3 linked regions of the Homo sapiens genome follow. The protein of the gene in region 2 interacts with the protein of the main gene of each other region in a pairwise test. Each region holds a gene or a part of one and is shown on either strand. Other genes may lie near its edges.

Region 1 (3,647 bases), on a different chromosome or scaffold from region 2:
GGTCAGGAGTTTGAGACCAGCCTGGGCAGCATGGTGAAACCCCATCTCTACTAAAAATACAAAAATTAGCCGGGCGTGGTGGCAGGCACCTGTAATCCCAGCTACCTGGGAAGCTGAGGAAGGAGAATCGCCTGAACCTGGGAGGTGGAGGTTGCAGTGAGCTGAGATCGCGCCATAGCGCTCCAGCCTGGGCAACAGAGCGAGAGGCCATCTCAAAAAAAAAAAAAAGAGAGGGGCCCATCTTGCTGCCTGTGGAGTTGTCATTGCTTCAACAGCCCCATATTAGGACAGATTACAGGAACTACTTGAGCTTACCCCAGGGCTGGCCCAGACCAGGCAGTGGGTCCTTCCCCAAGCAGTCATCTAAGACTGCGGGGCCATCCTATAGCAGTGTCTAATTTGTCATGAAAAAGATCACAACACTCACAATATGCTGCTTAGCTAAGACCAGTAAGACGGAACTTGTTGTTTTCTCTTTTAGGGTGAAATAGTTAAGAAGTATACTCAGTTCAATCCTAAAACCTATGAAGAGAGGATTAATTTAATCCTACAGATGTGTGTGGAAGCTGCAGCAGAAGCTGTAAAACTGAACTGCAGAATTTTGGGAGTAGGTAAGATTGTAAATTATAAATCCAAGAAATGCTCATTTTAATGTACAAAATTTACTAACTTGTGATGCATGCCTGAGCATCAAGTCAGTGTCTGCCCTGTGCATAGATGGCTCTAGGTGCTGTCTGTGGGCCCCAAGCATGGGGACTTCCTGGGACACCAACAAGCATTAGGAGAGAAGCACTGACAGTTCTAGAAATCTTTAAGGTGCTATGGCTTTAATTCACAACTGTCTAATATTTCCTTGCAGTCCTTGGTAACGTTTGTCTTAGGAGATCTGGGGTGAATGAATCTGTGTTCTTAAGACAAGAAAGTCAGCATACTTTCCTGAGATTGCTCATCAGCATTATTTCCTTGTGTTTGTGGTGGAGCGCAGGCATTTCCACAGGTGGCCGTGTAAATCCTCGGGAAGGAATTGTGCTGCATTCAACCAAACTGATCCAAGAGTGGAACTCTGTGGACCTTAGGACCCCCCTTTCTGACACTTTGCATCTCCCTGTGTGGGTAGACAATGATGGCAACTGTGCTGCCCTGGCGGAAAGGAAATTTGGCCAAGGAAAGGGACTGGAAAACTTTGTTACACTTATCACAGGCACAGGTAAGAGGGGTAGGGGGAGGTTGGTTCAGGAGCTAGAATGTATATTGGAGCATGTCTTCAACATGGTCAGGTGGTTACAACTCTGCCTTAGCCTTCACTTCCTGCATGACTAGAGCCTGAAGGTGAGCCACATGTGGCCTTTTCTGAGCATGTGCCCAGCCTTAGACATGCCTGTGGCCTTCTAAATTCCAGGAACTTGTCAGAGCTATTCAAAGCTCTTATTTCCCAGAGCTTCTCATTTCCCAGCTTTTCCTCCCAGTCTTTTTGGTTAGTGTGTTGGATGCCCCAGCTGTTATCCTTTGCCCTAGACAGCACAGACTAATACATTTTACCTTGAAATGTTTTTTTTTTTTTTTTTGAGACGGAGTCTCGCTCTGTCGCCCAGGCTGGAGTGCAGTGGCGGGATCTCGGCTCACTGCAAGCTCCGCCTCCTGGGTTCACGCCATTCTCCTGCCTCAGCCTCCCAAGTAGCTGGGACTACAGGCGCCCGCCACTACGCCCGGCTAATTTTTTGTATTTTTTAGTAGAGACGGGGTTTCACCGTTTTAGCCGGGATGGTCTCGATCTCCTGACCTCGTGATCCGCCCGCCTCGGCCTCCCAAAGTGCTGGGATTACAGGCGTGAGCCACCGCGCCCGGCCGAAATGTTTTTGATAAACATCCTTCATGTAACCCCCTCAGCACTAGGATAGTTCCTAGTTAGTTAAGATGAAAGCAGGCCCTTTGAGGTGGTCCTCCAGGGAGGTGACAGGCAGGTCAAAACAAACAACCACAATTTTTTGAAAATAAGTTCGTCCTGCCCCGTCAGGTACTGGTATCCAGTACTGTTTCTGTACACCAGTACTGGGAGTGTGGACTGTTGTTCAAGGTCACCACCAAGCTGGAGAGTGGGTGATGGGACCAGGGTAGGTTACAACACCAGAAAGTTCTCTTATCAAGATTCAGCTGGTTTTGTTTTGTTTTTAGACAGGGTCTCACCATGTTGCCCAGGCTGGTCTTAAACTGCTGGGCTCGAGGGATCCTCCTGCCTTGGTCTCCCAAAGTGCTGGGATTACAGGCATGACCCACTGCACCTGGCCCTGGTTTTTGTTTTTCTTTTTTAAATTAAGCATTCCTCTGTTTGTTGCAAACTTTGGTTAGTTTCCAGAGTTCCAAAAAGGTTGATTCTGACATTTTTACCAGTTTTTTCCTCACTTTAGTGGCAGAATGGACCTTTGGAGTTCCCTGCTCTGTCATTTTTTTATGACATCCCAATTTGTTACTTTTGTTTTTTTACTCTATTTTATTTTTGTTGTATATATTTTAAGTGTATAACTTGATTTTTAAATGAGGAAACAGACTTAGCTAATAAGCGGTTAAGCCAGCATCTGATACAGATATGTCTAACTTCAAAACTTGTATGTGCTTAAACTCTACATTACACCACTATCCCTTTAAGCTCATGTACTTATTTATTTATTTATTTAAAGAGTGAGTCTCACTCTGTCACCCAGGCTGGAGTGCAGTCGCACAATCTCAGCTCACTGCCTCCCAGATTCAAGTGATTCCCCTGCCTCAGCCTCCCAAATGGCTGAGATTACAGGAATGTGCCACCACACCCGGCTAATTTCTGTATTTTTAGTAGAGACAAGGTTTCACCACGTTGGTCAGGCTGGTCTTGAACTTCTGGCTTCAGGTGATCTGCCCGCCTCAGCCTCCCAAAGTGCTGGGATTACAGGGGTGAGCCACCACACCCAGCCTAAGCTCATGTACTTTAGCTCATGCTCATCCTCTTTTAGTTCCAGACACAGTTTTAGCAAACTTGGATACCATTTCCTGGCTCAGAGCAGTGACTAAGCTGTAAATCAGAGGGCTAGGGGTTGAGGAATAAGTGCCCAAGAAGTGACAGATGGCAAGACAACCCTTAAAAGCAGAGCCTTCTCAGGCACAATACCCTTTACTCCTTTGTAACTGCTAAACGCCATAACAAAAGACAGTCACTGATATTTATAATTATTGAATCACAGATTTTTAGACATGGCAGCATCAAAAAAGGCAAAATCATTATTTCATATTTTCTGCTTCAGGAAGCAGGTAGTGTGTGATACATTTTAAAAGACTTATCTTGGGTATTCCTCAGAGCAGAGCCTGAGACAAGGATTTAGGTACAGGTATGGTTTTTTGGAGGTGACCACAAGAAGCAGGAGGGTGAGTGGGAAGAATGAAACAGAGCAGGAAGAAAGCCATTAAGGATATATTAACATTATTGAAGTTGACTTGAGGGCAAAGGGGGCTGAACTCCACTAGCACCTCCTAAGAAGCCTGCAGAACAGCATCCAGAATTGTCCTGTGGATCTGCCGGCTCCTGCCTTGCCTCGGTTGCAGGTTGCCCCTGGGTGCTGTGCCTGCGTGGCTGAGTAGGCTCTTGCTTCAGTGTTAGAGAAAGCCTTGGTGCAGAAAGA
Region 2 (3,647 bases):
ACAGACACACGCGGGGATCTTGAGGTCCCGCCGGGGGGACGTCCCTCCCACCACCTTAACCCCTGAACTTCGCCCCTGAGAAGACGGAGGAGGAGGAGGAGGAGGCCAGGTTGTATCCCCTGGTCTCCCAACGAGTAGGAAATGGAGTGGGCGGCAAAAGCCCCGACAACAGGGGGCTGGCACCCCCAAAAGGAAAGGAGCCCTGGGGAAGGGGAGCGCTAGGCCTGACTCCTGAAATAGCCTCACGCCAGGAGGAGAGGGCTTAGCTCACAGTGACTCAGGGCACAGCAGGCGTGGACATCAGCCCGGGACAGACTCTCCTGGCAAAACCCCCACTCATTCTTATTTCCCCTGCCCCGCCCCCACCCTTAGACCCCCACTGGGCACCAGCCCAGGGTTGGGGGGGGCCAAGGCTGGTGTATGAAGCCAGCGGGGCTCCAGTTTGCTGGACTGGCGGGAAGGTGGTGATTGATTAATAAAAAATAATTGGGGCCGCCTGTAATCCCAGCACTTTGGGAGGTCGAGGCAGGCGGATCACGAGGTCAGGAGTTCGAGACCAACCTGACCAACATGGTGAAACCCTGTCTCTACTAAAAATACAAAAATTAGACAGGCGTGGTGATGCGCGCCTGTAATCCCAGCAATTCGGGAAGCTGAGGCATGAGAATCGCTTGAACCCCAGAGATGGAAGGTTGCAGTGAGCCAAGATCACGCCACTGCACTCCAGGCGACAGAGCAAGACTCTATCTCAAAAAACAAAGATAAAAAAGAGAGAATTGCATTTTCCAGCCCAGAATAGGGTCCCAAGGGGGTTCCTTGTGTGTTCTTTCCCAGGTTGAGGATGGGGGAGTGTGTCTGCCATGCGGTAGGAATGGAGGCTTCTCTGGGGTTCACAGAGCAAAGAGAGGTCCACCTGGGGGTCCTCCATGAGGGCGGGCTGCTCTCAGAGCAGAGAGACCCCCCCTGGGAAAGGACCCTCTTCTTTCTCCCTGAAGGCAGGTGTCCAGGCCACGGAGGACAGGAGGAGGGTGGAGAGGAGAGAGGGCTTCCCCTCCCAGGACCTGCCTGCCTGCCTGCCGGGCCCCCACACCCACTGCCCTTCAGTCATTCTGCCCCGTCCCCCCGTCACAGAAACACTCTGGTCACTCAGCCACCTGCAGCCCACCCCCCACACCCACCAGCTCCAGACCACACCCACACCTCCCACCACCCCTACCTCCAAGGCGCCCCTCAGGCCTGGGCCTCACCCCTCCAGAGCCTCTTGCAGAAAACAAACCCTTGGGTGACCCCTTCTGGAGGTGGATGTCTGGGCCAAGAGCCTCCTTGGGTCACACTCAGCAGGCAACCCAGGCTGGCTGTCCCTCCCAGGGACCCCCCTGCCTCCACCCCAAGCTGGCTAGAGAAGGAGCCTGGGCTCAGGAGGGGAGAGGTGGGAAGGCAGACCCAGGCTTCTGGGCACTTGGCCCAGCTGGACCTTATGCAGATGGACAGCCTCCTTCTGAAGCCCAGAGCCTAGGCAGGAGCTGAGGCCACACCCCCGACTCCCAGCTGCAGGAGCTGGTTCAGGAATTAAGAATAGGGCACAGAATGACCTTGGTATCACTTCACCTCCCCCAGCCCAGCCAGCAAAGCCCCAGGCCCGGTCCAGGTCATCCTCGGCCACCCCCAACTGCAGCTGCCCTCCACAGGAGCCAGGGACAGGACAGGGTCGCGGCTCCATGAGGCTTGCTCCAACCTGGCCAGGTGGGAATCCTGCCCCACCTCTTGCTGACATGGGGCTGGGGTGGGGTGGAACCCTGTCCGCCCTCTACCTCAGCTCTGCTCCATCCAGCACACAGGGCCCCCCCGGACACCACTGCAGGTCTGAGCACACCTGACCCCACCTCCGCAAAAGTTAGGGAAGCCTCTGCTGCCGGAGGCGCGGGAAAGCCAGTGTCTCCCGCGAACACTGATGGCCCACGGCCCTGCTCAGTGTCCAGGATTCCCTTCCGCAGCGCCTCCCGGCGACTGGGGGACCTTGGCGGCAGCCGGCTCAAACCCTCGGAAGTGAGTCCCTGGGCCCGACAGGTCGCCTGCCTGGAGGGGCGGGGCCGAGGCAAGGATAACGGCTGCACCGAGGAGGGAGCGGGCGCAGAGGAGGCACCGGGGCCCCGCGCAAAACTGGCCACGACCCGGACTCGAACCCCGACCCTAGGAGAGGCGCAGTGCCCGGGTGGCCCTGTCCGGCGCGCACGTGTGCAACGTGTCCCGTCTCATCAAGTGAGGAGAGGAGAGGAGAGGAGAGGGGACCAGGGCGTGGGGCAGCCGCTCTGAGTGCAGGGGGCGGACCCCGCGATGGTGCAAACCTTCCCCACCCGCCCAGTCCAGGCTCCTAGCCGGAGCAGCGGTCTTGGGTCCTCCCGGGACCATCCCCACAACCGCACCCAACGCCTGGCCGGGGCAGCGACTCCGACTCCCCAGACCCCGCGACCCGCCGCGGGAGGGACCCCGGGTCTTTCCCGGGCCCCCACCCCGGCCCCCGGACTCACCCAGAAGAGCAGGTTGAAGGCGAACATGAGGTACTTGACGGCCTGGAGGCAGGCGCGCGCCATGCCGCAGCGCTTCAGTTCTAGGAGGAAGATGAAGGAGAGGTCCAGGTAGAAAACCACGTACTTGTTGCCCTTGGGCGACGTGTAGCGCGCCTGGGCCGCCTTGGGGCCGGGGTTCGCGTGCAGGCCGAAGAAGGAGCCCCCGGCGTCCCCGCCGCCCGCGCGCCCGTATAGGCTGCTGTAGCGCCGGAAGGGGCCGCCGCGCGCGAAGTCCGGCTCCTTGCCCTCCGGAGAGGGGCTGCGCCGGTACGTGGACTCGTCCGTGCTGGAGCGGCGCATCGCGCCCGGGTGTGCCGGGGCCGCCGCTCAGCGCCCCGCACCCGCCGCCCCGGAACGCCCCATCCCGCCGGCCGGCGCCTGCTCCGGCCCCGCTCCTGCTCCCGCTCTGGCCCCCGCGGTGGCAGCGGGTCGCGCGGATCCGCTCGGACCCCGGCGGCGGAACCCAAACATCTGCCCGGCCCGCGCGCTGCGGCCCCCGCGCCCCCGACCCCGCGCGCCCCGCCCCGCGCCCTCCCGGCCAATCCCCGGCGGCTCCGCCCCCGCGCGGACCCCTCCCCTCCTCGCCGCACCGCCCGGCAAACCCCAGCGCTCCGCCTGGGCGGACCAATCGCAGCCCCCGGCAACGCACCAGCCGCGACCCCGGCCCCTTCGCCCGCGCCGGCGCCCCAGCCCCCCCACCTTCGCGCGCGGGAGGAAGATGCTCGCGAAGGGCGCCTGAGGGGACTGGAGGCCGGGGCCGGGGCCTGGGGATGAAACCTGGGCAGCTCTTAGCCCGCGACCGACACCCCCAGCCCTTCCCCCCACGGTACCTCGCCCGGACTCTGGCCCCGGGCCGGGCTTGGAGACCTCCAACCACGAGAACGATACTCAAAGCACTACGCAAATGGAGGGTGACCCCGTTGCTGTCTGGTGGCAACTTGAAGCGGCTCCGCCCCGGGCGCCCTTGGGGAAGCCCTGAGTGCCGGCGGCGGGTGGGGGGCTGGGTCAGCCTGCACTGCATGGAGCAGGTGTCGTTGAGTCTTTGACTATATGGGAGGTTCCAGAACACAGAAAAGCGCA
Region 3 (3,647 bases), on a different chromosome or scaffold from region 2:
CATAAAACTTAAGGTTGGATAGAAAAATGATGTTGTATTTTTCAGAATCCATATAATTTGGAAATGACACATGGAGAAATAAACATATTTCGTCCTCCAAATTTAAACAAATGCTTGCTTTTTAAATTGAAAACATTTGTGCAAATGAACGTATTTTTACCACTTAGGGTGAAACTGTTCAGAAATTACCTGGATCTATACAACTCCAAATAGAGCAGAAAGTTGAAATTTATTTGGGAAGCCTGGGCTGCATTAATAAAAAAAGAAAATAAATCCAGGTAACTTGGGCTTTATGATCTATTTTGTGTTCAAACATCTAGATTTGCTTTTTAACATTTACTTCCAGTCATTCTCAACCCCCATGTTTCAGTTTTACCCTGTTACCTTTTAATTTCATTTTAGGGGATAGTTTCTAGATTGCTTATATAAAACTTAATATAACAAAGCCAACCTATGTCAAGTCTAAGACATGTTTCTCCCACCATAGTAGGTGATTTTAGTTTAAAATGCAAAATTCTGAAACACAGGCATACTTCTGAGGTTCCAGCATTTAAATTCTTAGCAGTCTGTAAGGGTAGGAAACGTGTGTTTCCTGAATAAAGCTTTCATTGAACATGCAGTAATTTCTAACACTCTATTTCTTGCCATCATCCTCAAGGCTTTATGCCAATTTGAGTGCTGATGGCATTTTGCTTCAGGTATACATTTTCCCAATAACCTGAAGCCTTCCCTACATTTGTGTTTAAGGACAGGGAGAGATCATTATGGTTCAATCACCGAATTCCTATCATTAACTGCACTTCATGTCACATTTTTAAAGAACTCAATTTAATGGTAGAAAGCCACTGGGTAAAACCTGCTCCGGTTCCCTTAATTAACAGTTCTGTGGGGTGATTCTCCCCCATCTTGCCCCCACCCTTTCAAGTATAGATTTGTTTTCGAGGGATTGCTGCAGAAAAGAGAAGCTGTTGGGGAACACTTAATTGACATTTCTGGACTCAGAATGTATTACCACTCTGGTATTTTGGTCAACTCTCCATTATTTAGAGATAATTATATTTGTAGATTATTCATAATTCTTGTTTTTTTCTTTCCCCCTTTCTGCTGCCAGTTTCACTGTCCTTCAGCATTTTCCACTGAAATCCTGTAAAAATCAAATCTGCTAAAGGAATGCAGTTACTTGAAAGTAGCTCTGATAAAGCTTGAGTAGTTAAAACAAAAAATGGCCAAACTCAGTGGCTAAAAAATAAAATAAAATGACCAAGATTCTGCATTTAAAACATCATAATCCCAAATATCTGTAGGGCACTTAACGTATTGCAGTCTTTCCCCAAACATTTTCTCATTTCTCTGCAGAATTCAGGTAGTGATATTTACAATCTGAAGATCAAAAATAATTGTTGCTTGTTGCTATGTATATCCCTCCACAAATGTGCATTTTTACAAAACTTTATAGCTTTTGTTTAATAATGAACTATCTGTACAGCTCTTTAAAGATTATAAAGCACTTTCATATATATTTTTATCTCATTGAATACACAGCTCTTCTCTGAGTTTTATTCATTGATAGGGAAACAGGCTTAGAATGAAGTGTCATGCCCAACATGATACAATTGGAAGGTGGAAGATCAAGGTCTTCTATTTGAGTCTTCTCTCACTAATTCTGGTGTACTCCCAGATATATCCTATTGGCCTCCCAAATCCAAGTTACCCAGTCAGCATCCTGCTTTCTCTTTCTTTCTACCCTGTCCAGCACTAGAGGATAAGGAATAATTTGTGTGGGTTTGTAAATGACTGAAATAATGGCCAGTGGGGTGAGGAGTGAGAAGGATGGCACAGAAGTAAGTGTCTGATAAAGTCTGGGAGTCAACAGCAAAAGGTAGCACAGCAAAAGAGCAAGGTCTTTTCCCTAAGTGGCAGAAATAACACTGAACTCAGGAGTCAGGACAAATCAGCTGGAAACATCTCATGGGCAGTTAAATCACTGCTTACAGCCTGCATAAGGCTTCACCGCTCCAGGCCTCAGCTTCCTCGTGGGTAAAATATGGGGGAGGCTGATGGCCCTCCCACTGTAAAATTTCTCCGTTAGGCCTATGAGGGAATGAATTATGTCTACACCTGGCACCGCATGTGATACAGAGGTAGGGAAAGGTTCCTAGAGGACACAAGACCCCAAGTTCTATCTTCTATGGAAAGAGGCAGCTCTTTCCATAGAAGAAGACAGTTGTCCCTGTCTCCTAGAGCTGCAGAGCTGTGAAAAGGGAATGGACTTTGGGGTCACGCAAACGTGGGTTGGCATCCTGCCTCCATCTCCCTTCTCTGAAGGTGTGTCCTGAGGCAGCTGATTAACCTCTTCAAACCTCAACATCCTCATCTACAAAACAAAGAAAATTAAAACACTGTTTTAAAACACTGTTACTAAAAATAGCTAGTGAGTGGCCAGAATTCAATCTTAGATGTGTCTGACTCTAGAGCCCCAGCTCTTACTGTAAGGATTAAATGAGACACAAATGTCCAGGGCTTGGTACGCACACACTATCCCCTCAGACACCCTGGATGGACAGACAAAGCAATGAGGTTTTTGCATTTTCGAAGTCACAGGTCCTTTTAAGACTCTGCTGAAAGCTCTCCAGAAAAATGTTCATAGGGCAGTGTCAGGCCAGGAGGTTCACGGACCCCCGGAGTCCGTCTGGGGTGGCCTGCTGCACATGGACCTCAGTAGAAAGCCCCTGAGAAAATGGATGTGAAGGTGCTAGGAAGGGCTGTAGGAAAGCATGATGTGCCGATTACAGCTCTCAAACCGGGAAGAACAAGGATGCTCCTACACTCACTTAGAAGCTCCCTTCAGTGAGGGGGCTGGGTGCGGAGGGGAGGGGGCGGCGTGCGCTCACCTTGAAAAAGCCCTTGCAGCCCTCGCAGGTTCGCACGCCGTAGTGCTGGCAGGCGGCGTTGTCCCCGCACACGGCACACGTGCCCTCGCCAGACGACGAGCTCCTGCTGGGCGGCGACGGCAGGCTGGGACTCTCGCCCAGCAGGCTGGACGCGGTAGGGGAGGGCGTGAGGCCGAGAGGCGGGAAGGCCAGCGGGGCCGCCCTCTTGGCCAGCGGCAGCCCGTACGGGTGGCTCTCAAGCGCGGCGGCCTGGCTGCCCGCGGCGGCTGCGGCTCCCAGCGGCAGGCTGAGCGCGGCAGCGGCCGTCGGGTCGTAGCCGAGGTGGTGGCCGCCGGCCGGGCTGGGCGCGGGGGGATGCGGCGGCGAGGGCTTGAAGTGGAAGAGCGGGAAGCGCGCGCCGGCCACCGTGGGGACCGCCTTCATCGGCGGGTCCAGCAGCGGGCCGGGTGCGATGCAGCCGGGCGCCGAGGGCAGTGCCTCGTCCCATAACGCCCCCGCCTGCGGGGGGAAGGCCGGCGTGGTGGGGGTGGACGGTGGGGACTGCTTGAAGTACATGGAGGTGCTGGGCAGCACCTCGTCCTCCGGGCTGGAGGCTGGAGGAATGGATGGCTGCTGATGCTGCTGCTGGTGATGGTGGTGGTGGTGGTGGTGGTGGTGGTGATGGTGATGGTAGCTGGGCGCCCGCCCCTCCTCCACTTTGATCAAGGGCCGCTGCATTTGGTACACGCAGGAAGGCTTGAGTTCGTAGTTGCTCGA

The links.
Region 1: the proteins of TSPAN4 (region 2) and GNE interact in binary tests that used the Homo sapiens proteins (3 or more experiments, as listed by UniProt).
Region 3: the proteins of TSPAN4 (region 2) and NR4A3 interact in binary tests that used the Homo sapiens proteins (3 or more experiments, as listed by UniProt).

The regions. Positions count from the first base shown.
Region 1 is NC_000009.12:36,220,337-36,223,983, reverse strand, and holds part of GNE (bifunctional UDP-N-acetylglucosamine 2-epimerase/N-acetylmannosamine kinase), read left to right. Parts: intron 1-481; coding exon 482-611; intron 612-985; coding exon 986-1,207; intron 1,208-3,647. UniProt on the Homo sapiens protein: Bifunctional enzyme that possesses both UDP-N-acetylglucosamine 2-epimerase and N-acetylmannosamine kinase activities, and serves as the initiator of the biosynthetic pathway leading to the production of N-acetylneuraminic acid (NeuAc), a critical precursor in the synthesis of sialic acids.
Region 2 is NC_000011.10:849,249-852,895, reverse strand, and holds part of TSPAN4 (tetraspanin-4), read right to left. Parts: intron 3,041-3,647; exon of another isoform or gene 2,868-3,040; coding exon of another isoform or gene 2,592-2,867; coding exon 2,529-2,591; intron 1-2,528. UniProt on the Homo sapiens protein: Structural component of specialized membrane microdomains known as tetraspanin-enriched microdomains (TERMs), which act as platforms for receptor clustering and signaling.
Region 3 is NC_000009.12:99,828,238-99,831,884, reverse strand, and holds part of NR4A3 (nuclear receptor subfamily 4 group A member 3), read right to left. Parts: coding exon 2,892-3,647; intron 1-2,891. UniProt on the Homo sapiens protein: Transcriptional activator that binds to regulatory elements in promoter regions in a cell- and response element (target)-specific manner.